Regions from separate parts of the Homo sapiens genome. Here all the other regions are linked to region 1. Evidence: fine-mapped expression QTL. A gene starts in region 1. Each other region holds a variant in brackets. All regions are shown on one strand. Distances are from middle to middle. Region 1 holds the start of CTNNAL1 (catenin alpha like 1). Region 2 overlaps TMEM245 (transmembrane protein 245). Region 3 overlaps LOC105376214 (a long non-coding RNA gene). Region 4 overlaps FRRS1L (ferric chelate reductase 1 like).

Region 1 (8,146 bases):
TTTTTTTTTTTTTTTTTTTTTTTTTTGAGACAGGGTCTCATTCTGTCACTCTGTCACCCAGGCTGAGTGAAGTGTTGTGATCACAGCTCACAGCAGGCTTAACCTCCCCAGCTCAAGCAATCCTCCCACCTCAGCCTCTAGAGTACCTGGGACCACAGGTGCATGCCATCACACCCGACTAATTTTTTGTATTTTTTGTAGAGACGGGGTTTCACCATGTTGCCCAGGCTGGTCTCAAAATCCTGGACTCAAATGATCTACCTACCTCAGCCTCCCAAAGAGCTGGGACTACAGGTGTGAGCCACTGCGCCTGGCCTAGGTTCTTCATTTTAAAGAAGTCGAATTTATCCATTTTTTTCTTAAGGTTTATACTTGTGGTATACTAACAAATCCTTTCCCAGCATAAGGTAATGAAGATACTGCCCTATTTTTTTTTTTCTAAAAGTGTTGTGAGCTTTTACTTTCATATTGTCTTTAATCCATCTGAAGTTGACTTTTTACTGGTATGAGACAGAGATCCAATTTCATAATTTCTATTTAGATATCCAATTGTCCCAGCTTAATTTTTTTTAAGTTCTTCCTTTCCCCACTGACCAGCAATGCCAATTGTCATTTACCGAGTTTCCATATATGTGTGGATCTGTTCTAGGGTTTTCTATTCTGTATCACAGGTCTATGTTTTTCAACCCTGTTCTGATACCCACATTGTCTTAATTACTATAGTTTTATAATGAGTCTTGAAATCTGGCAGAGCAAGTCCATCCACCTTGTTTCTCTTCTGCCTAATCTTGGCCCTTTGTGCTTTCATATAAACTTCAGAATTACTTTTATCAAGTTCTACTGAAAAATCTTGCTGAAATTTTCATGGAAATTGCATTAAATTGACCAATAGGGATAACTGATATGTCTATAATATGTCAACCTAGGCTTGAACACAGTACTTTTCTCCCATTTATTTAGATCCATGTTGGCTTTTGATAAAATTTTTAAATTTTCTCCATGAAGTTTGACCACTTTTGCTGTGTATACATAGAGATAGAGCTCTTTCTCTTTATATACATAGCAAAAGCAACATATTCTTAGGAAGCTCATATTTTGCTGTTACTGTTAATATAACTGGATTTTTTTAATAATTACTTTTTCTATTTTTTTTTATTATTTTTTAAAGACAGGGTCCTTGTTGGCCAGGCTGGAGCACAGTGGCGTGATCACAGCTAACTGCAGCCCTCAGCTGCTGGGCTCAAGCCATCCTCCCATTTTTTAGCCTCCTGAATAGCTGAGACTAGAGTAGCTGGGATTACAGGCACCAGCCAGTGCGCCTGTGCCTTGTTTGTTATCAATGTAGAAAAATGCAATTGATTTTAGTATCCTACACTCAGTGAACTTGCCAACACTCCTAATTTTTATAATTTACTTGTAGACTGTTTTGAGTTTTCTGCATAGGTTATTATATCACACTGAGACTTTTGGTTTTTCCTTTCCTATATTTATTCCTTTTATTTCTTCTCCTTGTCATATTACACTGGCTAGAATTTCCAGTGCAGTGCTGAGTAGAAGCATAGCAGGCACCCCACTCTGGTTTCTGGCTTTAAAGGAAATGTTTATTTTAAATTTGACTGTTGCTATGATGTTAAGTAAAAGTTTTCTGTAGATACTCTATCAGGTTAAGGACACTTTTTCCTAACACTAGTTCCCTAAGTGCTTCTTATCATTATTAGAAGCTGAATTTAGTTGAATGCTTTTTCTGCATCATTGTTAGGAAAATACATCTTTTATAATCTGTGAATGCAAAAAAAACTATACACATTTTTCTAATATTGATAAAATCTTGCATTCTTAGAATAAGGCCAGTAACCCAGGACTTTTCACTTGGAGAGTCAGAAGAAGCTAGATGATACCAGAATAGAAACTGTCTACTTTAAACCGTATAGTGCCAGTCCTACTTGTTTACCTCAAAACCCTGCCTCCTCCATGACATCACTGCTGACTCATCCATGCCTTCTCTGAGCTTTTAGAGTATGTACCATTGATGATGTTCATTTGACACTTTGCATGTGCTGTTCTATACATGACCTATCTACCAACTAGAATATAAGCCCCTCAAAAAACAGCAACAAATAAGCACACAATAAATCCTTGCTTAAAATGCTTAAAATATCCTTGTGGATGAGATGGTGAAACATGAGTTGGGTAATAATACAGCATTCTCAGAAAATGAGACTTGTGGACATATGAGTTTTCTGGAGAACTGCTGTTTTAATCTCCTAACACTGAAACTTTAAAATCATTCTAAATTGTACTTCCCTGCTTTGTTAACCGAGTATTCTGGCCATGCTTAATACACTTCTTGATTTTAACTTTTTCTTGTTAAGGACAGTCAATTATGAGGAATATCAGTTATGGTGTTGTGGTAGAGATGTAGCTGTAGATACACAATGTGTGGGATGCAAAACCTCAGCTGTGACCCTGAACAAGGCTTTAACTGGAAAAAGAAAAAAAAAAAAAGGCAGGCATTCTTCCCCTTTGGCATTGACCTCTAACTCTCAGCAGTGATTTATACTTTTCTTCCTCTGCTCTCCTACCCTTCTCTGGCTTCTTTTACCCCAGAGTTACACAATGCAGAGCTGTAAGACTGATACATTTTTAGCAGTGGATACTGTGAAAAGTTGCCATTTCTCCAGATTATGACTTTCTAGCTTGTTTTTCCACTATGTACCATCTTTTTCTCTAGATCTCATTACTGCTTCTAATCTCTAGAGAGGACACAGCATAGTGTAGCAAAGAGAACCTTCTGGAGCCAGGGTACCTGGATTCAAATCCCAGTTTGGCACTTATTGAAAGCCCTAACAACAAATTATTTAACCTCAGTATTCCTCAGTTTCCTCTCCCATACCACGAGAATATATACCAACTTCACATGATTGTTATGAGAATTAATGAGTTAATATTTACAAAGTGCTTAGAACCTGGCCTACCACATAGTAAGCATTACATAGGTGTTATTTAAAAAATGGATAAAATACTATCAACTTGAACTCCATCACTCTCTTATCTCTCTGCCTCTTAAAACTGCTCCAGTGTTTCTCGTTTTGGTTGTGTTGTGCTAGTGGAGATAGGCGAGGAGCGGAGGGTCTGACATTACTGAGGGATCCCAGTGCCCCTTCCCACTGGTCAGAGCCTCAATGAGACACAGGAAAAGGGAAGGAGAGTGTCAGATATATTCATCACTGCTCCGTTAGCCATGCGAAGGTGAAGAAAATAGGGATGTTTATTTAACCAGCATAACAGGAATCCAGGGACATGTGTAACTGCTGTTTTCAAATATGCGCAGGGCTGGGCAGGAGAAGAGATAATAGCATTTAGAATTCTATGCAACAGCTACAGGCTCCCCTTCACTGAACATGTTTAAGCAGGGTACTGGTGGCCAGGTGTCAAGGATGCTAAAGAAAGAATTTTTAGTCAGATAATCTTTAAGATTTCTTCTACCTCTAAAATCTTGGTAATCCTAGTATGAGTCACGAAGTGGTTACAACCTAGATGTGAGTCACACATCGCCAACGCGCTCCCGAAGGCACAGAATTCACTCCCCACAGTGCTTGGCATCTTACCACAGACCTAAGTGAGGAATTCTAGCCCTGAAGCTGCATATAACCCAGCTCAGAGAAACAAAAACTTTCCTAAAACTCAGGGCGTCGGTTAGCTGATTGGCAAATACAGTAACGCACACATCCCAAACGGGACTTGGCAAAACGGTGTGCATCTGGATTAACTGTCATACAGTCTCCACGTCACTCTTCCACGAGGCCGGACAGAAGCGGGCAGAAGTGAGCAGCAGCAGGTTCAGGGGAAGGGGTAGGGTGGCCGGGATGAATGGGAGGCCAGCGAACTGACCTACGGCGGGGAGGGACAAAGGATCAGGGAGCGCACGCTGGGCGGGGAGGCCGGGAGGAATACCCCAGGCGGAGGAGCCGGGCTCGGGACCAGGCTGCGAACTGGTGACAAAGTCGGTTATCGTGGAGGGCCCTAAGTACCAGCGAGGGGCCCCGCGGGGGTCCTCTCTGCCTCGGGAGCTGGGCTCAACCACTCGCCCCGCGGAGGGGGCATCGCCCGGCCGGGGGCACCCGGGAGCCGCAGACCCGAGGCAGGTACTGGGGGCAAAGGCCCAGGCCGGCACCCCCGCCCCGCAGCCTCCCCTGCTGCCGAGTCCACTCAACCCTGCCGCCGGAGTTTGGATTATCCAGTCTCTCGCCGCCCGGGCCGAGGCCCGTCCCGGAGCCCCACACAGGCGGTCCGACAAGAACGCCGCAGTGCCGGCGCGGAAAGTGGGGCAGCGGCTGCCTCCCGTCCGGTCGTGCGAGCGGCGGCCGCCATCGCGGGCCGCGGCGGGAAGGAGAAGAGGGGCCGCGCCAGGCGCCACTTTACCTGAGAAACCAGCGGGAGTAGCGTCTGCTCCACCGAGCGAGTTTTGATCTCCAGTCCCGAGTCGAGGGCGAAGCCCGAAGAGCCGGAGCCGTAGACTGCTCCGGCGCCGCCAACGCCGGCGGGTCCGGGAGAGGCGGCCATGGCCCTCGGTCTATCCCGCAGCCGGGACTCCGCGCCGCGGCGAGCCTGCCGCCAGTCAGCCCACCCGCCCGAGGCGGCGGCGACAGGACACTCGCGCCAACCGAGACCCCGCCCCCAGGGGCCCGCCCCCCCAGGGCTCCGCCGCCAACCCTGCGTCCCCGACGCCCGTCACCGTATGTCCCCGCCCACCCCCGGCCTCTGCCCCGCCCGCGCAGTCCAGCCTGGTGTGGGCTCCCTGCAACCCCACCCCCTAAGCCGGGTCCCGCCCCCACATGGCCCCGCCCTTATCTCTTCTCAGACCCCTTCCATGGGTTCCAGGCACCTTCTCGCCAGGGTGGCGAGGAGAAACAAAACACATCTGTCACACAGCCACATGGCCTCCTCTTACTTGGACAGACAAGCGTCCCCAGCAAAGCTTCCCGTCCTCTCGATAGGTGACTCGTCCTAAATCAGCTCTGAATTCCCGCAAAGACTTCTGGAAGCTGTGCTGGGGTTGAAACTGGTAGACCAAAACCAGAATCAAGTCTGTTGGGAGGGGCCTTTCCCCTGGGACGGGAATTCCAGTGGTAATGTCTTCCTGGGGCTTCTCCGGAAGGTCCAATTTCCACTCCACCCTGCTCATTCTTTCACCATGTATTTCTCACAAACACTTTGAGCTGGATTGAAGGGGAAACATTTGATAATGCAATCATTAATGGAGTATCTGGGTATTCGGCAGGAAGTCAGTATATCTTTCACACTACTGTTTAGACTTATTCAAAAGAAATTTAAAAGAAACATGAAAAAGCCTCATCTACTGTTCAACACTACTTCTTAAAACTATTTTTCGAAGTTTTTTCCTAGTGCCAGGCACAGAGCAGTTTCTTCATAACTGTTCATTGCATGAAAACACCAAGTGTGTATTTCTGACAACTCACTTGAGGGGAAGGGTAAGAATCAGTTCTGTAAGCACAACTCTGAGCTCGCACAGAGCCCCACGATGGGGGCGGGGAGCTGAAGACTCCTATTCTAAGGTCTCCAGGAGCAAGGCCAAAAGGAGGTTGTCAGCAGTATGCACGCCGTGAAGGAATTCCAGACTTAAGCAACAGACTGAGAAGCATGAAAAAATGTTTTGTCAACTACCATATCTGCCAGTGAGAACCTGTCAGAGTAAAAAAGAATCTGAGGCTGGCCAGTCCACCCGGACACCTTGGCCTGGATCATTTCTTCTTCCATAACACCAGATTGATGAGCTGGGTACATCAACCTGAGGCATAAGAAAGCTCTTTCCCAAGCACCGTTGAAAGGCGCTTCACAGTGCTTCAACCTGTAGCTTCAGCTTCATCAATCTACCAGTGCTGCACAGCTGTCTTTGGTATTGAAGATAGCCAAGCTTCAGCTTCTTTTTCTTCATTCAAAAAGGACAGGTCCTCAATCCAACTTTTTCTTCCAATTCTTCTCAGCCAACCATCTCACCACTTCCTTACCTATCACAAGGCCACCTTCCCCTGTGCACTGAGGGCCCTTGACCTCTTTAAGGCGCCCAGTGTCCACTTCCTGGACACACCTTCCCTTACGAAGTTGACAGTATCTCCTAAGAATTCAGTGTACACAATGGTGCCGGAGGAAATGGCATAACAGAAGGCCTAAGAGACGGATGGATTCATGAAACTTTGGCTTCACAAAAGATCAAGTTTTTCAACACACAGGAGATTAAGTTTACCACATGATTCATTCAACACTAGTAATTTTATTTCAAAATATAAATATTTCACATTAATAAAGAAGTTACATCAGTAGGTTGTCAAAGCAAGTTAGCTAAGAAACAGCATTTGTGTGAGAACAGAGGGTATTTATTGTATTCGAATATTCTTTTTTACTTTTGAATTGCCTCCTTCACCTGAGAACCCAGGGATGATACATTTTCAAAGAGTTATGTAAGCAATTACAACTCTATATCAAATCTTAGTTCAAAATCAAATTGTACTGGAAATACACTTCAGTTACCTAAATAAGTGGCACTGCAAAGGGCAAAGAAGGGTTTTCTTTGGGATGGCTACAATGAGAGTTACATCTGCTGGGTCTCTGCAATAAAAAATAAATGATATTTGATAATAAGCCAAAATTATCAGGATTTGCTTCCATACTTTTCACTGTAAAATAAAAAGCTAGCAAAAAGCTAGTAAGAAACCAGATGTCTAGTAAAGAACTCTGGACTTGGAGTCAGAAGTTCTGCAACTAAATTCTGGCTCCATCATTTTGTGGTATAAACTTAGGGGAATATCACCAAAAACTTTTCAGAGCCTCCAGAGCCCCCCCATCTGTACAATAAGGATAATATTGTCTGTCTCACAGGGCTGTTACAAAAGGTGTCTGAAAACTATAAAGTGCCATACAAAAGCATTATTAAAATGTAATATCAATATATCACCACTGTATTTGCACATTAGTTGATCCTTGAAAAACCTGCAAAATTAAACACAATACTGATTTTACACACCACAGGTGGAAAAGAATCTCTATACCTTAAGTATAGCTCTAAACAGCAAATATACTTGCTTTCTGGACTTCAAGATTTATTACACACTACATGGTACCACAGTAATAGATCTGCCATTCAGTATTTCCATTAGGGATGTCTTCTCAAAGAGTTGTAAACTTGATCAAGGGCCATGTTTCTCAAAGGACCCTGTAGTCCTTTGAGATGCTCTGAGGAATAAAGAAGGGGAGTGCAGTCTAAGGTCAAACAGTGTTTGTCCCCTTTTATAAATTCACAATGTGTAATAGCATGTTCAAAACTCTTAGAAGTCCTACAGTAAGGAAACAAACTCAGCATTCCTTCATTTTAATTGACCATGCAATCCCCCACCCCCAACACACACACACTTTTTTTCTTACATCTATTAACATCTCTTGGAACTACTGCTATATGGAACACATTTTGCCAAAAGCTGCTCAACCATGAAGAAAAGGAAAGAGAAGTAGAACAACGGACTGACAGAAAAAAAAGAACTCTATTCTATTCTGAATTCTGTTACTAACTGGCTGTATGTGTATGTCAGACAAGCCACTTAAACCTATGAATTTGGGTCTTTCTCTAGAAAGTGACAGGACCACCTAATTTTAGAAGTCCCATTCTAGCACAGAATTTCTGACTCTAGTAGACAGAACAACTTGATTTATAATTCTCTTAAACTATCAAAAATAACCAAACAGTGGCTGCAGACAGCATGTGTGTTTTTTTTTTTTTTTTTTTTTGCAGGTTCCCAATAATCGGTAAGTTAATAAAATGAATATATTTTGATGGCAGAATGTTGAAAGACAAGAAACTAATAAAAAGTACTTGTTTTTAGCTGGAACTAGCATTTGGAAGTAATGCTAGCCAGAGGCTATTTCCACTGTGAAATGCACACTCAAAGTCCTATTGTAATATTATTTTAAGGGTCTTAGGAGGCCCCTCAGAGGAGACTGCAAGGTCAGGGCTAGAGTATGAGAAGTCCTAAGGGTTTTTGTATTTTGTTTTTTTTTCCTATAAACCCTGAGGTTGAAAGCTCTGGATAGCTCACCTAAATTACTTTCCTCTAATCTAACCCCTCACAGCCTG
Region 2 (8,146 bases), 56 kb after region 1:
CTGCCTCAGCCTCCCAAGTAGCTGAGATCATAGGCACGTCACCACGCCTGGCTAATTTTGTATTTTAGTAGAGATAGGGTTTCACCATGTTAGTCAGACTGGTCTCAAACTCCTGATCTCAAGTGATCCACCTGCCTCAGCCTCCCAAAGTTCTGGGATTACAGGCATGAGCCATGGCACCAGGCCTCAATGTTTCCTTAGCTTTTAGACCCACTTTCCCCACAACCTCCCTTTCATTCTACTCTGCCTGGTTTCTCTGTTCACATGTCCTGAGTCACCTGCCTTATTCAGCACCAAAGAAAATGGTTCTGGGAGACTGGGATATTCAACATCTGGGACAGGGTTCTCAAAGTGTGGTCCACAAACCAGCAGCATCAGAACTTTTTGGAAACCTGTTAGAAATGAAAAATTGGGGGCCCAAACCTAGATCTACTGAAAAAGGAACACGACTAGGGCCCAGCAATCTGTACCTTAACAAACCCTGCAGGTGATACTGATGGCATGCTACAGTTTGAGAATCACTAATCTAAGGAAGTGAAGAAATCAGAAAGAATGCAGGAAATGAAGAAGGTGAATCATTATCCTCAAGTTGGTTATCTACTGAAGATCTTTTAAAGATAGAATTCCTGAGCAAAGTTCCAACTATGCAAGGAACTATAGCCCACAGCTTTACTTGTTGTGCAGTGAGAGGTGGCCTCCTCATTCTTCTGTTGACTAAGCAGGCTGTACCATACACCTTAATCAAGAATCCTTTACACAATCCTAATGTTTTCCACAAGAGAAAATATGTTCACGTATTATCTAAATTGTTCCTCTTAATAATATACGCTGGAGATGTTGACATTCACAAATTTAACAGTCCTCATTTCAACTATTCCAGAGTGAAGCCAAAAGGTGAAGGCAAGCAGAAGCTAGTCATTTACTTTCCTGAGGCCCCAAAATGACACATCCTACAAACCTAACACAAAAGGGTCAATTAGGTAAAGTCAAATGTGCAACATCCTCAACTCACAGCAACTTTATGTGCTGTGTATGAGAAAGATGGTCATAAAGAGAAAGTCAGTTGCCACTGACAGCCACAAAGTCATGGTGCCTAGGAAAGTGGTCTTTAACCAGAAAAAAATAAGAGATCTTTTGAATAAATTAAAAAGTAGACTATTAAACCAGTAGTGGGTTGAATCTTAAGTATTAACCAGTTTGTCCCACACTCCAAATAAAGTATCTGTGAAACTTCTTGGCAAATGCCTCAGTCCACTCAAACATTTCTCAGCAAGGCCAGCACGCTGGCTCATGCCTGTAATCCCAGCACTTTGGGAGGCCAAGGCAGGCAGATTACTTGAGGCCAAGAGTTCAAGACCAGCCTGGCCAACAAGGCAAAACCCCGTCTCTACTAAAAAATACAAAAATTAGCTGGGCATGGTTGCACAAAACTGTAGTCCCAGCTACTCAGGAGCCTGAGGCACAGGAATCACTTGAGCCCAGGAGGCAGACGTTGCAATGAGCCAAGATCATACCACTACCCTCCAGCCTGGGCAAAAGAGCAAGACTGTCTCAAAAAAAAAAAAAAAAAAAAAAAAAATTTCTCAGCAAGTAAGACAAAATTTCAAACGTTTAGAGACACAAATATAATAATTTACAGTATAAGCATATAAACAGGAAATCTGGGTCACTAAACTGAAATGTGATTCGGGAGAAATTAAGTAGCTTTTAAATTACTCTTTTATACATTCATCAGTGGCTTGAAGGGACTGCTAAATATTTTCAATTATATGGTAACTTATAATTGATATTATATTGATATATTGGTATTATATTGATATTATATATTATAATGATAACACTCTCCTGTAGTGTTATTCAAAAGTGTGAAGATGGGCAGGGCATGGTGGCTCACGCCTGTAATCCCAGCACTTTGAGAGGCCGAGGCGGGTGGATCACCTGAGGTCAGTAGTTTGTGACCAGCCTGGCCAACATGGTGAAACCCCGTCTCTACTAAAAATGAAAAAATTAGCCAGGTGTGTTGGTGTGCGCCTGTAGTCCCAGCTACTTGGGAGGCTGAGGAAGGACAATTGCTTGAACCCAGGAGGCAGAGGTTGCAGTGAGCCGAGATCATGCCATTGCATTCCAGCCTGGGCGGCAAGGGCAAGACTCCATCTCAAAAAAAAAAAAAAAAAAGTGTGAAGATTCATAGAGGTATCTGGACAGATCCTTAATGATTCACAAATGTCTATTGGGCCTGGGAAAACGTCTTATTGGCCACTATGAAAACACTTTCCCAATGTACTCACACAGGTTTCCTAAGAGCAACAAATGAGAGGAGCTGTTTTGGGGACAAGGTAGAGGTACTGGCTCAGTCCCAGCCTCCCTCAAGAGACATGGGGCCAGAAACACAGGAGCTGCCTTAGCTGGGCTGTACTCCGGCCTTACACCTCTACAGCCCCTGAACTGAGCTCCTTCCTTGGAGATTCACTGCCTCAGCCTATCACTAACTCCCCTACTCACTCAAGAGGGATCCCTCAGCAGAAACCAATGCCCTACAGTTTAGACTGGTCTGCCTTCACCTTCCTGGGTAAAGGTTAATCTCTATCACCTACTACCTACCAAGAGAACAACCCTGATTAAAAACAACTTAGTTTAGCCTACTGGGTTTCTCCCAAGTAAGCGAAGGGATAAGTGCAACTGAGAACCATTTCAGTGCCATCTCCTAATGAGGGTCCTGAGGCACAGGAATCAACAGGCTTGAGACAAGTCAGGAGAAAGCAGAAAATGAGCTCCCGACTAACAACTGCCGAAGACAAGAATCAGTATGTATAACATCATTATTTTCTTTAGAGCTCCACTAAGATGATCCTAATCTGTCTAATTTACCCACCAGCTTACGAGGCACATCCAGCAGAAGTCAAGGGACTACATGGGCCATATAAAACCACACCAAGTTGGAAGAAAGGACATCTGGACTTATTCTTAACTGTATCTTCTCCACTAGGAGTATCTACATGAATCCCCTACAAGGTCAACTGCCCTCCTGCTGACAGAATCCACTGAGTACTGAGAGATGCAGGAAACCATTATCATTATTTCATGCCGACCCCTACTATTTCCAATCCCATCCCCACCTATCTGCTGAAAAAGAATCAGACCTTCTATGAATCACCAAAGTCTAAGCAACTTCAAAAAGCCTTCCTTGGCCGGACGCGGTCACTCAAGTCTGTAATCCCAGCACTTTGGTAGGCCGAGGCAGGTGGATCATGACATCAGGAGATCGAGACCATCCTGGCTAACACGGTGAAACCCTATCTCTACTAAAAATACAAAAAAAAATTAGCCGGGCGTGGTGGCAGGTGCCTGTAGTCCCAGCTACTCGGGAGGCTGAGGCAGGAGAATGGCGTGCACCTGGGAGACGGAGCTTGCATTGAGCCAAGATCGCGCCACTGCACTCCAGCCTGGGCGACAGAGCAAGACACCATCTCAAAAAAAAAAAAAAAAAGGCCTTCCTTTTGGGAGGCCAAAGCGGGTGGATCACTTGAGGTCAGGAGTTCAAAGACCAGCCTGGCCAACATGGTAAAACCCTCTCTTACTAAAAACAAAAAACTTAGCCAGGCATGGTAGTGCGTACATGACTGTAATTCCGGCTACTTGGGAGGCACAGGAATCGCTTGAACCCAGGAGGTGAAGGTTGCACTGAGCCAAGATCACACCACTGCACTCCAGCCTGGGTTAGAGTGAGACTCTGTGTCAAAACAAAAACAAAAACAAAAACCTTCCTAAATGGAACATTAATTGGCAATAAAAAAGAACAAACTTGATACCTACAACATCTTGGATGAGCTTCAAGAGAATTATGCTAAGCAACAAAAAGCCAATCTCAAAAGGCTGCATGCTCCATGACTGGATTTACGTATTATTCTCAAAATGATTTTATAGCTATGGAGAACTGATCAGTGGTTGCTAAGAGTTAGGGAAATATTGAAGGAAAGGGTAGAGGATGGGTGTGGCTGTTAAGGGGTGGCATGAGGAAGCCTGCAATGTAACAGTTATGTACTGAGTGTGTTGATAGCTGACATGAAGCTACATAGAGGATGAAATCTGAAGGTCAGTGTATTATAGCAATGCCAATTTCCTGGTTTTATTGTACTATAGTTATGCAAGATGACAACACTGGAGGGGATGGGGTGAAGAGTATATGGGTCTTCCCTGTATATGTCTTTGCAACTCCCTGTGAATCTATAATTATTACTTCAAAATTTCAAACAAAAGACAAACCTTTCTTCTACTACCTGATCTGGGGCTGCTCAGATTGTGTGCCTTTGATACAGTTGCAGAGAGAATGCTGCTACTATTCAAAACCGGTACAAAAGGGCTCTGCATTGACTTCCAGTACAGAAGAATGACCCAAAGAAAAGGAGCCCTCTGGATGTGA[G/A]GGCTGAGGCTGAGCCCTAGAGGACAACATTTGGAAGGTCTATCATCCTATGAAAGGCTCTATCCACTTGCCTAGATCCCAGGTGGCTCCTTCCTAAAATCCCATACCTGATACATGTTGGTTCCTCCTTTTTCCCATTCTCCTTTTAAAATGTATTATATCCAAAGAGCCAGAGGACAGAAGACCTCACTTCTTACTTCAAAGATGTATGGCCCCTAATTTCCCGCCTTCCCCGCTCCACTGAACTCACAGTATTTATATCCATATCCATTCTGACCTGCTTTCCCCAGCTGTTCCATTCGTGCCATGGATTCATCTCATGCTTCATCCTCAGAGAAATGCACTAAGAATTATCTCTCTCCTAATATTTACAACCCCTTCCACTCTACCAGTTCTTTCCCTGGAGCATACAAACAAGGCTTCTCCATCTTAAAAAATTAAACAAAACTGCTCTATACCTCCTTCCCAGCTACGTTCCATAGGCAAACTTGGGAAAGAGCAGTCTATACCTGCTTTCTCTAGTTCCTCGTTCCCAATAATTTCTCATCACACTGCAATCTAATGGGCTTCTGCTACACCAATTAAATGAACTGCTCTTGCAGCTGCTAAACCCAATTTCACTCTTAGAAAATTTCTGCAGCAATTTGACATTGCTGACCACTACTACTGTCTCAAAACGTTCTCTTTCCTTGGTTTTCCTCTTACCTTTCTCATAGCCCATTCTCATTTTCCTTTGTGAACCTATTGTTTTTTGCTCACCCTTAAAGGCTTAAGATATCCACAGGGCGCACCTCCAGACATCCTCTCTGTACCTTACATACATTCTTTATGCTGATGCTTCTCAAAACTCAAGATCCAACCCAGACCTCTCATCTGATTCCTGGACTTACACAGCAACTGCCCATTTTTTAACTTCACCCCATCTCTCCTGAACCGCATACCTACATAGTCAACAGCCTACTGGATGCCTCTACTTACAACAGTCACCTCAAACTCAACAGGTAAACAGGGGAATTAGTTTCCCTACCAAATCTGCTCTTCTATTTCCTGTCTTGGTGAATCCACCATCACTCACTAATTTCCAAAGCTAGAAACATAAGTCATGCTAGATTTCTTCCTCCTATATCCAATTAATCACCAACTAACCCCCTTAAGACCTTATAAATCTGTCCCTCCTGTTCACCTCCACTGAAACTGTCTACAGTTCAGGGCTTTGTCACTTCTCATCTGGTTTACTCTAGAAGCTTTTAATTTGTCTCAAAGGTTTACATCTTGTATACCTTCAATCTTTTCTCCACAAAGCAGCTGAAAAGCCTGTTCTAGAATGAAATATGATGATTCTACTTCTCTACTTATATCCTTAATCAAAATAATAAACATATCTATCACTCCTAAAAATTTCCTTGCACCTATATGTATGTCCTCCCTAGAGCTCCACCCCAATCCACAGGCAACCATTAATCTTACTGTCACTACAGATTAGTCTGCATTTCCTAGAACTTTAAATAAATGAAATCGTACCATTTGGGCTTTTTGTCTGAATTTTTTCACTCAACTTACTTTTTTATTGTTGTTTTTTTGAGACATAGTCTTACCCTATCATCCAGGCCGGAGTGCAGTGGTGCAATCTTGGCTCACTGCAACCTCCGTCTCCCGAGTTCAAGCGATTCATGTGCCTCAGCCTCCCAAGTACCTGGGATTACAGGTGTGTGCCACACACCCAGTTCATTTTTGTATTTTTAGTAGAGATGGGGTTTCACCATATTGGCCAGGCTGGTCTCAAACTCCTGACCTCAGGTGATCCTCCCGCCTCGGCCTCCCAAAGTGCTGGGATTACAGGCGTGAGCCACCCACCGCACCTGGCCAACATACTTATTTTGAGAGTCATCCATGTTGGTACATGTATCATTAGTCCATTTTTTTTAATGCTGTATAATATTCCACTGCATAAATATACCACAATTTATATTTCAAAAGAAATATACTTCTTTTATGAAGATTCAAATAGGCCAGGCACAGTGGCTCATGCCTGTAATCCCAGCACTTCGGGAGGCTGAGGAGGGAAGATCACTTGAGCCCAGGTGTTCAAGACCAGCCTAGGCAACATGGTGAAACTCCTACAAAAAATATAAAAATTAGCCGAGTATAGTGGCTCATGCCTGTAGTCCCAGCTACTCAGGAGACTAAAGTGGGAGGAATGATTGAGCCCAGGAGATCAAGCCTTCAGTGAGACATGATTGTGCCACTTTAATCTAGCCTGGGTGACAGAGCAAGACCCTGTCTCAAAAAAAAAAAAAAAATTTTATTCTAAATCAAGTTCAAGTAATGTCCTAGGCAGGTTTTATATAAAAGAATAAAGTAGAGGCAAAGGAAAAAAATCAACTTAAATCTCAACTTATAAGCCTAAAACTGGCAGAATATTTCCTGACTTATGACTGTCTTGAGGTTAATAAAAGGCAGGTCATACAATGTGTCATCAAGTTGTTAGGTGGATAACACAGCTCTGCTGAACATCCCCCACAAAAACTGAAAACCCTTCTTCCAGAAGCCAAATTACACAGAGATCCTATAAAACAGAAGTTGGCAAATTTTTCTGTAAAGGACTAGAGAGTAAGTATTTTAGGCTCTGCAGAACATATAATCTCTGCCACAGCTACTCAATTCTGTTTGTCCTTGAAGCCCCAAAACAGCCAGAGAAAATATGTCAATGAGTAGACATAGGTATGTTCCACTAAAACTTCATTTACCAAAGTGTTGGGAAAAGGGCTTGTGGGGTGCCTGTATAAACTGGCCACAAAAATATGGGACAATAAGTTGTGGAAAGCCATGAGAGGCCTCTGAGTAGAAAAGTCTCCGAATTGCCATCATGTTCCCATACTCAGAGCAAGACCTGCTCTCTTATCTGTAAACACTGTGTTCAAGGAGAAAGACACTCCCTTGAAACACTGGAATGTGGACAGATGTGCAGGCTCCTAGTTAAGCCCGCTCCCACTAGCTACTCTCCAACAAGTTAAAGATATGCTGTTTGAGCACAAAGGAGATTGATTTAAACCGCTATTGCTATAGATTACACCTATGATGTACTGCCTCCCTTTCAGTGTTTTCACCCTGAACATCTGCTTTTTAGATCTAAGTGATTACACTCAATAAACAGTGTGGAGACCAGAGCTCAGCGCCTTTTGCAGCCTCCATTATGCAACTGGCCCCGACTCCCACCTTCATGAACTCTTAACCTGTACCTGTCTCTTCTCATTCCTTTGTCGCCACCGAACTTCAGGTACCCTACGGGTGGTGTTGAGGCTGGTCCCCAACACAAAAGGAGGTGGCTGAATTTGGCCCTGGGCCATAGTTCACCTATCCTTCCTCAAAAATAATACAATATGGGAATATGTCAATAATTATAAAACTGGGCATGGTGGTGTACACCTGTAGTCTCAGCTACTCCAGAGGCTAAAGCAGGAGAACTGCTTGAGCCCAGGAGTTCAAGATCAGCCTGGACAACATGGTGAGACCTCATTTCTTAAAAATAAATAAATAACATAAATTTAAAAATTATATAGAAAGTTGAGGAGTTACAGTTTCCATGTTATAGTGGAAACTTTCCTTCAGTTGATCAGAAGCAGTGGTTATAAATGACTCTGCCACTGCGGAATTATTATCTCAAGTTCCTTAACCTTTGATCTTGTTTCCTCATGTGTAAAATGGGGATAATTTCTTCAATCTATC
Region 3 (8,146 bases), 890 kb before region 1:
TTTGTTCTTAAGGCACCTCCAGTTCTGATTTATTTATTAGAATGAGCATCACTGTCTCTGTGTATGATTAGGTCCAATAAACCATAACCATAATTTTTATTCCTAGAAACAGGCCAGATGACCCTTTCAGTATATTGGTATTCTCCAATCAACAACCTCAAGAGCTCATCAAACAGTATGAAAAGAGAAAGGGAGGAGGTCGGAGAAGAAGGCATAGATGAGCAAAGAGGGCTACAACTTCTCCATAATATGAGCATTGGAATTCCTTTTTCCTGGTCCAAACAGAAGACATAGCCATAAACCGAATCATGTTTTATTAAAACATATATATATGTTTATATATAATAGTTATGTATATTTTTTATAAATATATTTATATAAATATAAATATAAATACATATAAATTTATATATAGTTATATGTAATATACATAACTATTATATATAACTTTATATATAATATATATTATATATTAAGTTATATAATATGTATTATATATAAAGTTATATATAATATATAAATTATATATTGTTATATATATTATAAATAAATAAATATATATATAAAGTGATATATACATATAAAACTTTAGGCTCTATCCAAAAAGGATTTGAGTCTGTTTACAGTAAGGGCCAGGCATATGGAAATTCACTAAAAAATAAACAGTAAAGCAGAACCAAAAAATGAGAAAAAGGGAAAGATTGGGCGCTTCATAGGATAATATAATTCTCCTTGACATGGTGGAGGATCATACTGGGCTCTGAGTTTTCCAGCAGTGGCAAAAGTAGGAGTATAAAATTCTATAGCACTTATTCTCAGAGCAGCAAAAGCTCTAAAAGTTGATTAAAGAAGATAAAAGTGTTTGGGGGGATTATTGTACTTCTACTTTGTTGGGTTTTTCTTTTCCTTTTTCCTTGGGGCTGTATTTTTAAAGTAACACCTGATTTAGGACTTGACATAAAGAACATTGAAAAACACAAAGGACCAAGACCCTCTCCTTTGGAGTGTGAGCTTTCTGGGGAGGGACCACACTATTCTTCATTTTTAGATTCCTAGAGCGCAGGGATATGACTAGTTAGAAGCTCAACAATTGATTGCTGGATGAATGAATCAGTGTATCACAGACTAATTGTAGTCTTAACAGCAAATACCAAAGCGAATTTCCTACAACTGATACTGATAACAGTGTTTGCAAACATCTCAGTATGTGCTCTTAAAGAGCAGATCAATGAAGGTAAGGAATGTGACCGAAGTTAAAAGGTTTTCATTCATCTAATTTTGAGTGAATAAAAGTAGACCATAGGAGAGACAGCACAAATATTCAACCTGACCATGCCAGCATGGCTGACCCATTTGTTTGTAGTCAGAGTCCACTGTAATTGCTTGATGGATGTTGACTATTCCGAATATCCTCAGCAGAGGAGGAGGGTGTACCATTCTTTGCTTGAACTCTTTCTCATGAATTCACTTCTTTCATTTTAAACTATTTAAAAAATAATAGAAACCTTGATGACCGGGCGTGGTGGCTCACACCTATAATCCCAGTACTTTGGGAGGGTGAGGCAGGTGGATCACCTGAGGTCGGGAGTTCGAGACCAGCCTGACCAACACAGAGAAAACCCGTCTCTACTAAAAATATAAAATTAGCCAGGCATGGTGGCATATGCCTGTGATCCCAGCTACTCGGGAGGCTGAGGCAGGAGAATCGCTTGAACCCGGGAGGCAGAGGTTGCGGTGAGCTGAGATCACGCCATTGCACTCCAGCCTGGGCTCGAAACTCCATCTCAAAAAAAAAAATAATAGAAACCTTGAATGCCACTATATTATGCCACTGTATTACTTTACAGCGTGAAATAGAATATCAAGTGAAATGGATGCTTGTATATGCTCAAGAGCCCTGTCTCTTCTCACAGGTAGTTCTTCTATCTAGGAAGTCAAAGTGTAAGAAAGTTGCTTGATGACTCTAGAATCCGAGTTGGCAGAGTTTGCTGAATTTTCTTAATTATTGGGGGTGCTGTTGGGTTTGATCACTGACGTGTTCTCCAATGCTCAGAAAAAGTTCCAGCCGTACAGACTCTAGTGTGAGTGGGTCAAAATATCCTGTCTCCTAGGGCCTCACTACATTGGCCAAGGTATTTAGACAAAATGCATGAAAACCTATTGAAGTTTACTGAATATGCCAGACCTGATGCTTGTGCAGGCCACCCGTATCAGTAAGAAAAAAGTCTACCACCCCATCTTCTGGATTTGATAACTGCAACAGTAAATATTGGCACTCTACTAAAGTTCTTAGTCACTCTTATTTGCTTCTCCCTGAGTTTCCATCTAAGTAATAATATCAAACAAACAGAAGGAGTATAAGTTATGGCTGGTTTTGTTGTTTTTTTTTTTTTTTTTTTTCACAAGAAAGAGGAGAAACCATAAAATCTTTTAAAAAGCCTTTTACAGATAAATTGTTTCTAAGCACGACCACACTCCTGAAACACTCAATGAATGGTCTTGAGGTGCGGGGTGCTGCTGGAATTTATCCAAGACTTCAGATGCTGTGAGGATTGGCCATTATCCTTGCCAGACAGGCTTGTCCATCTTCCCATCAGTTGCAAGACATTTAATAAAAACAGGCTGCGTTAATTCATGCTTGTTTAATGGACTGCTCCACGGGGCCTCAACTGGGTAAGCCTGCAAGACCCAGCCATGCATGGCAAATGGCTAAGCAGATGGTTTCAGTTTAGATAGTGGCTGTCAATGGTTTGGTGCGAACAGCTCTTGCAAACCAGCATGAAGTGAACAGATTGCATGGTGGCTGGGAGAAGCATATGTAATTGGAAACAGTAGCCACTTACAATGGGGGCACATTTTCAATCTTTATCACAGTGGCTCCAGTTGGGAAAAAGAGAGTTGATTAACCAAATGTGTTCTTGGCTGTGATGAATCCAACATTAAGAAAATTTGGGTAGTGTCTCAGGAGGGTGTTGGGCATGGCTGGTCTGCTGCATTAATCAAGGATGTCTGGATCCCAGAACTAATCCTGTCCCTGGGAGACAGGGAGGCACTTGGAGAAGCAGAGAACATGCTCAAAAGAGCCAAATCAGCAAGCTGAAACTTGCAATAGCTGGAGTTACGGCAATAGAGAAGGTCAGGTAGTTTAGGCAAACTGTGTCCATGGGCATAAAAGACCAGAACAGGTAGAAATCCACATGGGTTATTTGGGGAAAGGAAGCAGAGGTGCATGATTTTTGGAGACCCTCACTGAGAGAGGACATATGAAGGTTTGCAGCAGATGGTATGGCTACAGCCTCCAGGTCAAGGCTACTTAAAAGACTGGATCTGAGAAGGAGTTGTATGGGCGAGACAGGGACATTTCTTAGGATGACAGTGGAATGAAAACATTCCCTGAGACAGAGACAGGGCAAATGGACCAAGGCAGGTACTGGACCCTGGCCTTAGAGCCAACTTTGCAGAAAATGTGGCTTCCATATTTATTGGCATTTATTGAGTAATTACCTCATCCTAGTCCTTGTGATAGGCTGGGGACACAGATCAATGAGACATGAATGATCTTCCTGACTCCTTTTGTCTATCACTCCTACTATTCCTCACCTCCGTCAGCACTTCTCTGCCCACCTCCTTGACTATATTAAATTCTCCTGCTAGTCAGTGTGCTGTGTAGTTGCTGTTCTTAACACCTGTAAGTTTCAATTTTTTTTTCATGTATTAGATTATGATTTTATTAACTCCCTTACTAGACTGCATGTACCGTGACATCGAGGAACACTTTTGGCTGTTTATTTGTTTTTTTAAATCAATGTATTTTGTGTCTCCCAGGGAGTGAACACTCAAGAATATTTGCTTAACTAA[T/C]GTATGGATGAGTGAGGGGAAAAAATGATTTCCTTTTTTCTCTAACTGCTTAGAACCCAGGAAATAGTGACAATGCCAAAGTAGAAGACAACCCCAGGCTCAGTGCCCAACCTAGACCATGGGCAGTCAACGAAGGCCTCCTGGGGCAGGTGACCCATGGCTAAGGTTTGAAGCTTAAGGTGAAGTTGGCCCAGCAAAGATGGCAAGAAAAGCTGGAGAAACTTGACACAGCTCCTGAGAAATGAGCTGAAGCTGCTTAAATGCTTTCTGCCCAATGCTCCCTAAGTCTGGAAAATGGCAGGCAGAATGGAACCAGTGTTGGGTATTCCCTGGTTCAGCTATGGAGAGCACAGGGTAGAAGGACAGGGGTCTAGGTAAGACCTACATGGGATGGAGCACCATGAGAACAGCAGAGTCTTTCTCGAGGGAAATACTGTCTCTCTCCATCACAGTAAATGTAGAAATGACAGAGCCTGAGATCTGGCTGCCTGGATGCCATGAGGGCCACAGAGAGCTGCCCAGGCCTGCCCGAGTCCCCCCAGGCCCCAGGGCCTGACTCTATACTGCACTTTCCCACAGTGTTCTGTCTTAGGCCTGGCACCGTATTTGCTGTGTGTCAGGAAGGCCACCCAGCCTGAGGCACCCTTGGCAAGGAGGGTTGGGATTGTGGGGGCTGCCCACTGATAGCCTGGCTTGCTCTGATACTAAGGTGCTATCTCCTTGAGTCAATTTCCTCTGGCGATAACACTCGCCCCGTGTAAAGGGCCTATGTGAAGGAGCCATTCTTTTCCCTGCCCCTTTACACAGCCTGGCTCAGTCAGCTCTTTTGGCAAAGCCCGGGCTGCTGACGTGACAAGGTCACCCGGGACATGTGAGCTACACGTATGCAGGGCACTAAATCAAAGGAGGCTCAGTGCCATCTGGCCCAACACCCTCACTTGACAGATGAGAAAACTGAGGCCCAGAGAGAGGGCGAGACTAATTCAAGGTCCCACATAAAGCTACCAACGACAAGGCAAGAACCCAAGACTTTTGACTCCCTCTTCAAGTGCTCAGTCACCAAAGAAACAATGAAAGAAACCCAACATCATTCAGAACCACAGTTCATGGAGGGAAACAGTCAGGTAAGATCTCTGAATAGCAATCCTGCTGTTGGAACCCCTCACCACACTAAGGCACCTAGAGACGCAGCTATGTGTGACTTTGCACAAATTGCTTTTTCTCTCTGAATCTGTAATAGAGGGACAAAAATGATCATGGTTGTCACATTGTCCCTGATTATGAGACATTCACTTAGAAAGATATGCATCCCAAGCCAATTATAGTACAGGATGAGTATACTAGAGATGCATACAAGGTACCCAGTTTGTTCATGGGCTGACAGTTTGTCCAAGGGAGAACCTGGAAGGGCTTCTCAGAGCAAGTGGCACTTTGGCAAGGTTTTTAAGCAGCTCGTCCCATAGGTGAAGATAGTGGACAGTCAGAACAGAAGCAGCAGCGTGCACCCAAAAGCCTGCTGTGGGAACTCTCCATCTTGTGTTGTGATGAGAATGTCAAGTGCAAAGAAGTGCACAGGGGCTGACACATGGGACTGAACAGGAGTCAGAGTCCAGATCTTGATGGTCAGGGAGATGGTGGTCAGATCTGAATTAGAAACAATCACTCTGGGGCTGGGTATGGTGGCCCAAGTCTGTAATCCTAGCACCTTGTGAGGCCAAGGTGGGAGGATTGCTTGAGCCCAGGAGTACGAGACCAGCCTGGACAACAAGGCGAAACCTCATCTCTACGAAAAATACAAAAATTAGCCAGGTGTCGTGGTGCACATCTGTAGTCCCAGGTACCTGGGAGGCTGAGGTGGGAAGATTGCTTGAGCTCAGGAGGTTGAGGGTGCAATGAGCAAAGATTGTGGCACCGCACTTCAGCCTGGGCAACAGAGTGAGACCCTGTCTGGAAAAAAAAAAAAAAAAAGAAGAAACACTTTGGATCCTGAAGTTCAAGTCATCATCAAGTGAAATATACCTATCTGAAATTTGTTGTGAAACCTCAACTGAATAATTCATTTTCAGCATATCTAACTGAATAAATCTAGTTTGTCCACTTGAATTGTGTCATTTTTATGTTTGAGTTTAATAGTTTTAAGAGAGCTACAAGTGTAAGGAGTGTATAGCTACTTTTATGTCAGCATACATTTAAATAGCGCTAAGTCAAGTTTTTAAAAAGTTACACTGGAGGTTGCTATGAAGGATGGAGTGTTGGAGACTGGACTAGGGTCAAGAAGACCAGCCAGGGGAAATTTGTAATTGTGTAGGTGAGAAATAGTCCCTGAGACAGAATACAGTGCATGGCTTTAAAACGTGGGCTCCTGTGTCACGCTATCTGGGGACAACTTCAGTTTCCAATCCTTATGATTTAATTTGGACAAGTAAAATCATTTCTCTAAACCTCAGTTTCCTCTTCTGTAAGCTGGGGATAATAATACAATGGAACTATTTCATTGGATGAAATGAATTCTAATGATTAATAATAATTCATATAAAGTATTTGACATGGAATTTGGCCAAAGTATATGTTCAATAAAAATTAAAAGATAAATTCACAACAAACAAAACCACCAAAAAACACAAAGATGGAACCAAGGGCAATGTACACTAGATAGTCTTACATCGAAACGTAATTTTAGTGCCGAGAGAAAGAAAACTGGGAGAGGAAACCTTTGGAATGGAAAGTTCTAAGACCTCCCATGACTCACCTCCAGAGCCCTGTGTTGGGCTCCTTTCTGAGACCCTTTAGGGTGCTCTGTGATGAGAGTTAGGGATGTAAAACTGCAACTGGGTGTTGTCTCCAAACTTCTAATAACCTCAGCAGGGAAGACACCAGGTTCAAGAGGACCAAGAAGAAACCCAGAGCCAGCAAACAAGACATGGGGTTTCATTATGGGTTTACATACAGGGGAGAGAGTCCAGTTGAGGCAGAGGAATAGGGTCTGGAGGCAGGGAACCTAAGGCCATTTCACGCCAACTTCCTAGAACTAAATTGAAAAGAAAACTCTAACTTTTCACTCCCAAGTAACTAAAAGACCAGAGGCTACTCCCTTTGCAAATCCCCCACCTTTTCTGTGTGGCAGATGGGAAATTGGCTTGCACAACCAAGCTGACTTATTGTGGACTGAGTCTTCCTTTGCATAGAAGTACAACTTTGTAACTTCACCTTAGCCTCTGATTGCAAAAATCAACCAATCAGATGTTTGCACAGGAGTGTGACCTTTGTAATTCCACTTCATCCTCTGGCTGGTTGCTTTCTGCAACCAATCAGACTGATTGCAGGCCACCACTTCATTTACATGAGGTGAGCATGAGGTGGCCAATGGGAAATCTCTAGGGAGTATTTGGACCTGAGAAGATTCTGCATCCGGGCCCTTGAGCTGCTGCTGCTTGGCCCGCTCACACACTGTGGAGTGTACTTTCATTTTCAATAAATCCCTGCTTGCTGTCTTTCATTGACTCATTCTTTCCTTGCTTTGCTGCACGTTTTGTCCAATTCTTTGCTCAAAATGCAAAGAACCTGGACAACTTAAGTCAAGACCCTCTACCTGTAACACAGTGGTGTGAGTTGGACAAGATAACCGCATAGCCCAGTGGCAGTGGGCTGGGCAGAAAAACTGCAATCACCTGCAAACATCATCCGGTTTATAGAGCGTTTTCACTTAACACCCTCCCCATAATGACCTCCATCTAGCAACCTTTACTTAATCCGAAACTCAGTGCCTCAATCCCCTTACAGCCCCATGTTCCACAGGATGGGGTGCAGCTCAGATGTTTCTCATAGACAAGGAATACATCTTTGAGTTGGCCACTTCCAGATTCCCTAGCTCAGAACACACATTCACATGCGTCTGCCATACAGGGTCATTCTAAGTGTTTGCTTAGGTTATTGCTATCAGATGCGTTTACCCCATACCGGGTGGAAATGATGCCTTTGCATCTGCAACTGGGCCTCACTTCAGAGTGTAACTGACTGACTGCTGGAAGTTTCAAAAACAGAGTGAAGGATCATTTGGCTTCTGTTGAAATACGAGATTCATTTAAAAGTGAACACTTCACAGGGCACTGCTTTGGTCGAAGTAAGATGTTTCTAAATACTTTGTGCTACAAATCTTCAGGTCTCCTAGACTGGGGCTTGATGTTTTTCATCCAGTGTCCATCTCTGATTTCTCTCCTTCTGCCCTATCCCAGGAAGTAGTCTCCTGAAAATTTAGATGTTAAATGAAGACATTCCTGTCATACTCATG
Region 4 (8,000 bases), 140 kb after region 1:
TTACAGGTGGGATTACACCTGTAATCTCAGCTATGTTGGGAGCCCGAGGCAGAAAAATCAAACTTGAACCCAGGAGGCAAAGGTTGCAGTGAGCCGACATCATGCCATTGCACTCCAGCCTGGGCAACAGAGCGAGACTCTGTCTAAAAAATAAAAAAAACCCAAAAGGACAGGGTTCGGATGAGCTTCTGGATTGCTGAACAGATGGAGGTGCCTGAAGGGTAGCACACCCAACAGGGTGTTGAAGCTCCTCACTCCCTTCCCCATGCCTTCCCCTAAGTGTCTCTTCCATCTAACTGTTCATCTGTATCCTTCAAAATAGCCTTCATAATAAATGAGTAAAGTAGGTGGGATACGGTGGCTCATGCCTGTAATCCCAGGACTCTGAGAGGTCGAGGTGGGTGGATCATCTGAGGTCAGGAGTTTGAGAACAGCCTGGCCAACACGGTGAAACCTCGTCTCTACTAAAAATACAAAAAATTAGCAGGGCGTGGTGGCAGGTGCCCGTAATCCCAGCTACTTGGGATGCTGAGGCAGGAGAATCGCTTGAACCTGGGAGGTGCAGGCTGCAATGAGCCAAGGTCACACCATTGCACTCCAGCCTGGGCAACAAGAGCGAAACTCTATCTCAACAAACAAACAAACAAACAAATAAATTAAATAAATAAATAAATAAATGAGTAAAGTGTTTCTCTGAGTTCTGTGAGCCACTCCAGGAGATTAACTGAACAGAAGAGGGTGGTGGCACCCCAGATTTATAGCTGGCTGGTCAGAAATACAGGTCACAACCTGGGGCTTGTGACGGGTGTCTGAAATGGGGGCAGTCTTGTGGTTTTGAACCCTTAACCTGTGGGATCTAATGCTATCTCCAGGTAGGTAGTGTCAGAAACAAAGTGAATTAGAGGACACCTAGCTGTCCACTGGAGAAATGCTTGGGGTGTGGGGGAACACCCCCACACATCTGGTCACAGAAGTATTCTTTCTGTAGTGAGAATATGAGTAGAGACGGAAAAAAGTTGTTTTTCCCTCTTATAAGTGGTTCTTTCACTTCTGCCTCTGCCATGAAAAAAATATGCCTTGGATGACTAGTGAAAACACAGAGAAAACCTGAATCCAACTCATGGACAGGCGTCAAGTCCAGATGAACCCCACCTAAAATGAGCTGCACCCCAGTCAATCCATGAACATGTGAGCAAGCAATAAATGCTCATTGTTATAAGCCATATAAGGCTTATAACATGGGGGCCTCTTCTTGCAGCCTTACTGTGGAAACAGCTGATGAAAAGAGGTGCCACAAGACAGCTTGGATTCTGATAGCCAACCCTTTCATTTAAGCTAGCCTGAATTTTTTTTAACTTGCAATCAGAGAGCCATAACTAATTTGATCATTATACTGCTTTGATCAATTAACTTGCTTCTAAAATCAAAATAGCACAGCCAACTAAAGAGAAAAAATCAGCTTCTATCATGTTTTGCATCTTACCATTTTCTTGTCTGAAGAGAATCCAACTGCTACCCAACCATCTGTGTCTGCACTCAGCTCAAATTCTACATCAGCCCCTATCATCCGGTAGCTGAGGAAATAGTCACAGGTCTCTGCATTACAGCCTGGTTTGCCATATCTAGAAGAGATATCGAAAGAGACTTTACTGCTTCTACTTACACAAAAGACATTAAGAGAGCATCTACCATGTATCATGTGGGATGCTAAGCAATATTATTAAACACATTGGATTTTTGCTACCTGGAATCTTAAAAACACAGTTTCACTCTCTTAGGAGGAACCTTAGAGATGATCTGCCCCACTTTGTACACAAGAACTGCAGTCCTGAGATGGGAAGGGGCTTGCCCGAGGTTGTATAGTGAAGTCAGCGGTTGCAACAGGACTTGAATCTGGGTATCTAAACTCCCAGCCAGTGTTCTCTACATTATATTAGTATTAGAGTCTTTTACATGTTAGTTACTACTGAATTATTTCTGAATCCCTTTTAATGGAAAAAGATTCTCCAAGTTAACCATTTAAATTGTTTCTGTTAATTAAATGTATACCAACTCTTTTTAACTTACAAATTTTCATATAATCAAACTAACACAAATTTACAAATTCAATATAAATTAAACTAATAAACCAGGAACATTGAAATTCACAGCACTCATGCAACAGATAATGGGGCTTTACTGAAAGTAAATTTCTGCTTATGTGCATGTGGTATCCGATTAGATCGTGCAGGGTCTTTGGAGTTGAGAGCATGTTCTTACTACTCTCTATAGCATGATGGCTCAACTCTTCACTTTTATCTGTTTGAACTGCTGCAAAATCCTTATTTATGCGATACACCAAATGAATACCCCCATCTGGTACTCATGAACCATGAATGAATGCAATATTTATTTACAATTTTTTTTTCTTTTTTTTTTTTTGAGACAGTCTCACTCTGTTGCCCAGGCTGGAGTGCAATGGCGGGATCTTGGCTCACTGCAACCTCCACCTCTTGGGTTCAAGCAGTTCTCCTGCCTCAGCCTCCCAAGTAGTTGGGACTACAGGCATGGGTCACCACACCTGGCTAATTTTTGTATTTTTAGTAGAGACGGGATTTCACCTTGTTGGCCAGGCTGATCTTGAACTCCTGACCTCAGGTGATCCACCCACCTCAGCCTCCCAAAGTGCTGGGATTACAGTCAAGCCACTGTGCTTGGCCTTATTTATAAAATTTGCCTTTGTTCTGTTGGGCTACTTGCTGCTAATATAATTACAAATTCAGACACTAAAACATACAACAATATAAGGTGATTATCCAGATAGTGAGATTATGCAGACATTCATGTTTTTTTGAGAGCACCACTGAAATGAAAACACAAATTTAAATTTTCTTACAGAGCACTTGTGGATCCTTTCAGAACTGGCAAGCCCTGGTTTGAGGAACACTGTATTACACCATTTGCAGAATGGTAGAAAGTTGAAGCAATGGGTGGGACAATATACGCGCAGATGGAAGGTATCTAAAGGAACAGGGCACAGGGGTGCTAAGTGTTGAGGAGGGGACAGAAATGTACTACTATGCTGGCAGAAATACCCGAGCAGTCAGGAAGAGATATAATAGGATCAAGGCAACAGGGCACTGGGGTGAAAAAGATGAAAAGGAGCAAGGGAAGTTAAAAAAAGGAGTAAATGGACAAGAAAACAAGTCACTTTGAAGCCAGTAGAGTACTAAAATTCCCTCCCTTCTCAAAATATCCCCCAATCACCAGGTTTATACATTGCTGACCATCTTCCTCAATAAGAACATTTTTGGCTATTTTTATTCATTCCTTAGAAGTGGCCTTGTAATCCAAAGAAAGCTCAAAGCCCCTGTATTCAATTTTTCCTTCTTAGACCTTAAGTACTGAACAACAGCAAAATCAGAACCTTCAGTACAGTGACCATCAAAACTTTGCCCCTGACCATCAAATTATTCAGGGGCAATTTGTTTTAGGAAGTAAAGGGTTCAAAGGAGGAGGCTTTCCCAAAGAAGCTGAGCTGTCTAGATGGGAGGCCCATTGTCCACATGACTGTTTTCTAGCCCAGCCCGTCATGTCGTGATACTACTAATAATCATGTAGAGACTCACCATGCCTGAGATAACAAGCTAGCAACAATGAATGCTTAATGACTAGTTAGAATCATACAGATATCCATAGGTCAGGACTATTTACTAAAAAAGGAATTGGGTACTAAACATGTCTATCATTGCCTGTCCTGCCCACAGCCCCTGCTGAATAAGCACAGACACGTTCTGTGTCACATGAGTCTTCTGCATATCAGCAATTGGTGAGTAGGAGACACCTGGAGCAATGGTGGTACAGCTAGAAAAGAACCATGGAAGAATGGTCCCGGGCCCAGGACATACTAAAGTTAAAAGGCCTTTAAGACTGAAAAGCGGGATGGCCGTTACGAAACTTCATAACCCTGCTGAGGTGATCAAGGAGCTCAGGCCCCCTGATTAGAAGGAACTGCATGCAATTTAAATACTACCCTGAGAAGTAAATCAGTCTTAGCCTTAAAGTTATCCAACCTGCAGTTCCACCAACCTAAAGCATCCCTTAGTTTTTCCACAGTCGTCCACTTTGATTTTGGCAAATGGATCCACAGGAGGAGCAGTAGGGAAGGGGTAACCTGGGCAGTGAGAATAAAGAAGGGTTAGAAAATCCAGTAACAACTGTTCCAATGAGAATTTTTAAAAATGTGTTGACTGTTTTTTCTCACACATATCGAGAAATGTTTGGGGACTCAGAAAATGGCTTTGATGAAGGCTAATCATCCCCTTCATGGGGGAGGGTGTAGGACACACACCTTTGGACCTAATCTTGCATGTGAACTGAGAGTAGGTGTGTCCTTTTCTCACTTTACAGGAGAGGAACCTGGGGCACTGAGAGAGGCACAATTTCATATAACCACGGGCTTACCGCTGTCCCCTGGGAGTTTGAGAATCACACGTTTAATACAATATACATGTTCTAAGAGAAAAAAGTTAACAGTGATACATTTATATACTTGATAGTGGGATTTTTCCATTTATATACTTGATAACAGGATTTTTCCATTCCATTTTCAACTTCCATTTTGC[G/A]TTAACCTGTAGGTAACATTTTCTTAGGTCACTAAATTCTTTGTTTTTGTTTTTTGTTGTTTTTGAGACAGAGTCTCCCTCTGTTGCCCAGGTTGGAGTGCAGTGGTGCCATCCTGGCTCACTGCAACCTGTCTCCTAGGTTCAAGGGATTCTCTTGTCTCAGCCTCCCGAGTAGCTGGGATTACAGGCGCCGGCCATCAAACCCGGCTAATTTTTGTATTTTTAGTAGAGACAGGGTTTCACCATATTGCCTAGGCTGGTCTCGAATTCCTGACCTCAAGTGATCCACAGTCCTCAGCCTCCCAAAGTGCTAGGGTTACAGGTATAAGCCACCGCACCCAACTTGTCGCTAAATTCTTTAAACACATAATTTCTAACAGTTGTCTATCTTTCTTATAAGATTACTTACCACCATAATGCATCAAACCATACACCATAATGCATCAAACCATACCATACCCAACTTGTCGCTAAATTCTTTAAACACATAATTTCTAACAGTTGTCTATCTTTCTTATAAGATTACTTACCACCATAATGCATCAAACCATACATTGAAGGGTAAGGCTGCATTATGCCTCCACTTTGTGAGAGAAATCTTTTCTCCTAGGCTGTTTACTCCACGTACACAGGAATCATGTGAGACTTATCTTGTATTCTCTGCCCAGCATAGTGCTTGGCACTGGACACTGAATAAATGATTGTCAAAGGAATAAATAAAATCACCCACAGACATTAGGAAATGTAAATCAGTACAAACTTTTAAAAATCATTCTATTTTATGAGTTTTTTTCTTGTTATTTTTAAGTTTTTTCTTTGGGATTTGTAATGCTACTTTTTTTAAAGTGAGGCTTTGCTAATTTTGTCCATTAGATTTATTATACTTTAAAAAAGCCACCAGGTCACACTTTTCTGGCACACTTCTGTGCACTCTGAATAGTCCATTTTTACTATCCTGGACCTTGATCACATCATAAAGTACAATCCTAACTTTTTACCACCAAAGTAGTTGGATCAAATGCATTACTTTTTCTAGTTTTATGCTTATTTTATGCTAAGTCCTATATCTGCTTCAGTACTAGAGACCAGGGATCCCCAATCCCTGGGCCACTAACCAGTACCAGTCCATGGCCTGTTAGGAACTAAGCCGCACAGCAGGAGGTGAGTGGCAGGCAAGCAAGCGAAGCTTCACCTGTATTTATAGCCACTCCCCATGGCTTGCATAACTGCCTGAGCTCCACCTCCTCTTAGATCAGCAGTGGCATTAGATTCTCATAGGAGTGCAGTCCCTATTGTGAACTGCATATGTGAAGGATGTAGGTTGTACGCTCCTTATGAGAATCTAATGCCTGATGATCTGCCACTGTCTCCCATCACCCCCAAATGAGACCTTCTAGTTGCAGGAAAACAAGCTCAGGGCTCCCACTGATTCTACATTATGGTGAGTTGTATAATTATTTCATTATATATTACAATGTCATAATAATAGAAATAAAGTGCACAATAAATGTAATGTACTTGAATCACCCAAAAACCTTCCCCTTGACCCAGTCCATGGAAAAATCGTCTTCCACTAAACCAGTCCTTGGTATCAAAAAGGCTGGGGTTCACTGCTATAGACTGAGTCCTGACTTGAACGAGTTTTGTTTTTTTCTGAATAGTTATTGAGCCACTACAAACTACTGTATGTTAAGCAGCTTCATATATCTTCTTCCTGTTACTTCTCACTACAGTCCTGAGGCCATTTGTCTCAGAATATTTATCCAGGAATTCAATGATTGTTCACTTACATGTTTTTGAAATTCTAGAGTTCACTGACAAAGACAATCTCTTTTAATGTTGCATCTGACTCAGGTTCCCCATCTTCTTCCATTTTCAAACATATCATCCTCACTACTTCCTGGCATCTAGAATAATACGTTAGCATACAGCAGATTTCCAGCTCAATAAATACCAGTTACTATTACTACTGGATTATTATCACTATTTTTTTTTTGAGACAGAGCCTTGCTCTGTTGCCCAGGCTGGAGTGAAGTGGCATAATCTCAGCTCACTGTAACCTCTGCCTCTTGGGTTCAAGCAATTCTCCTGCCTCAGCCTCCTGAGTAGCTGGGATTACAGGCACCCACGACCACGCCCGGCTAATTTTTGTATTTTTTGTAGAGACGGGGTTTCACCATGTTGGTCAGGCTGGTCTCGAACTGCTGACCTCGTGATCCGCCTGCCTCAGCCTCCCAAAGTGCTGGGATTACAGGCATGAGCCACTGCGCCTGGCCCTATTAAATTTTGTAAACTGGCCTGAGAAGTAATAACCATTGGGTACGATTGTCTCTTTAAGAACAACAAGTTTCAGCTGGGCATGGTGGCTCACACCTGTAATCCCAGCACTTTGGGAGGCCAAGGTGGGCAGATCATGAGGTCAGGAGATCGAGACCATCCTGGCTAACACAGTGAAACCCGTCTCTACTAAAAAATACAAAAAATTAGCTGGGCGTGGTGGTGGGCACCTGTAGTCCCAGCTACTCAGGAGGCTGAGGCAGGAGAATGGCATGAACCCGGGAGGTGGAGCGTGCAGTGAGCCAAGATCGCACCACTGCACTCCAGCCTGGGTGACAGAGAGAGACTCCATCTCAAAAAAAAAAAAAAAAAAAAAAAAAAAAAAAAAAAAAGAACAACAGGTTTCTAAACTCCAAATGAAAGCAAATTTTGGAACAAAGCTAGCTCATAAATGTTCTGAACTAGTTTATTCATGTTGGCAAATGGCTTCTCAGGACTTTTCTAGCACTAATTTTCTATTATCATATATGCTTCTAAAACTTGTAATAGGAACTTGTGTTCTGTCAAATGCACTTGGACATGCCTTTAATAACATTTTCCTCTTATATTGCAAACTGTTGAAAAATAAAGAATTTGGCCTTTGTCCCTGGTTTCTGGGAGACAAACTCTAAAACCTTGGAATTTCCCAAGTAATGGGAGTGTTTTTGTTCTTCATGAGCCCCTTGGATTACACCTGAGTTTATGCTGAGCAACGGGATGACTAAGAATAGAGGCTGGTCACTGGAAAAACCATGTAATTAGAAGGTTGGGGCTTTGTGCTAGACCTACCTATAGGGAGGGTTGTGGGGCTGGAGATTGAGTTTAACCATGTGGCCAAATGATTAAATCAATCATTCCAACATAGTGAGACCCCAATAAAAACTCTGGACACTGCGGCCCAGTGCAGCTTCCTGGTTGAACACATCGATGTGCTGGGAGGGCAATGTGATAATCCCACGAGGAGAAGGCATGGAAACTCTGCCTTTGGGAGCCTCTCAGACCTCACCCTATGTGTCTTTTCATTGACTGTTCCTGAGTTGTATCCTTTATAATAAAACTGTCATAGTAAAAATAGCACTT

What was found.
Region 2: its variant is fine-mapped to the expression of CTNNAL1 in whole blood (TOPMed, PIP above 0.99).
Region 3: its variant is fine-mapped to the expression of CTNNAL1 in gastroesophageal junction (GTEx, PIP 0.94).
Region 4: its variant is fine-mapped to the expression of CTNNAL1 in lymphoblastoid cells (TwinsUK, PIP 0.95).

The regions. Positions count from the first base shown.
Region 1 is chr9:109,008,880-109,017,025 of GRCh38, forward strand. It overlaps CTNNAL1 (catenin alpha like 1), which reads right to left and starts at 4,620. Exons shown (of 19, transcript NM_003798.4): 1 at 4,423-4,620. The coding sequence starts at 4,563. TMEM245 (transmembrane protein 245) reads right to left here. Exons shown (of 18, transcript NM_032012.4): 18 at 6,256-8,146. RefSeq lists an enhancer at 3,808-4,311 and a silencer at 3,973-4,862.
Region 2 is chr9:109,064,900-109,073,045 of GRCh38, forward strand. The region is part of intron 9 of TMEM245 (transmembrane protein 245); the gene reads right to left. Among named protein-coding and RNA genes, the nearest start is that of MIR32, 23 kb to the left of the region's middle. The variant G/A (reference allele first, on the strand shown) is at 4,421.
Region 3 is chr9:108,115,270-108,123,415 of GRCh38, forward strand. The region is part of intron 4 of LOC105376214 (a long non-coding RNA gene); the gene reads right to left. Among named protein-coding and RNA genes, the nearest start is that of KLF4, 630 kb to the left of the region's middle. The variant T/C (reference allele first, on the strand shown) is at 3,859.
Region 4 is chr9:109,145,568-109,153,567 of GRCh38, forward strand. It overlaps FRRS1L (ferric chelate reductase 1 like), which reads right to left. Exons shown (of 5, transcript NM_014334.4): 2 at 4,069-4,153; 3 at 1,484-1,622. Among named protein-coding and RNA genes, the nearest start is that of FRRS1L, 18 kb to the right of the region's middle. The variant G/A (reference allele first, on the strand shown) is at 4,605.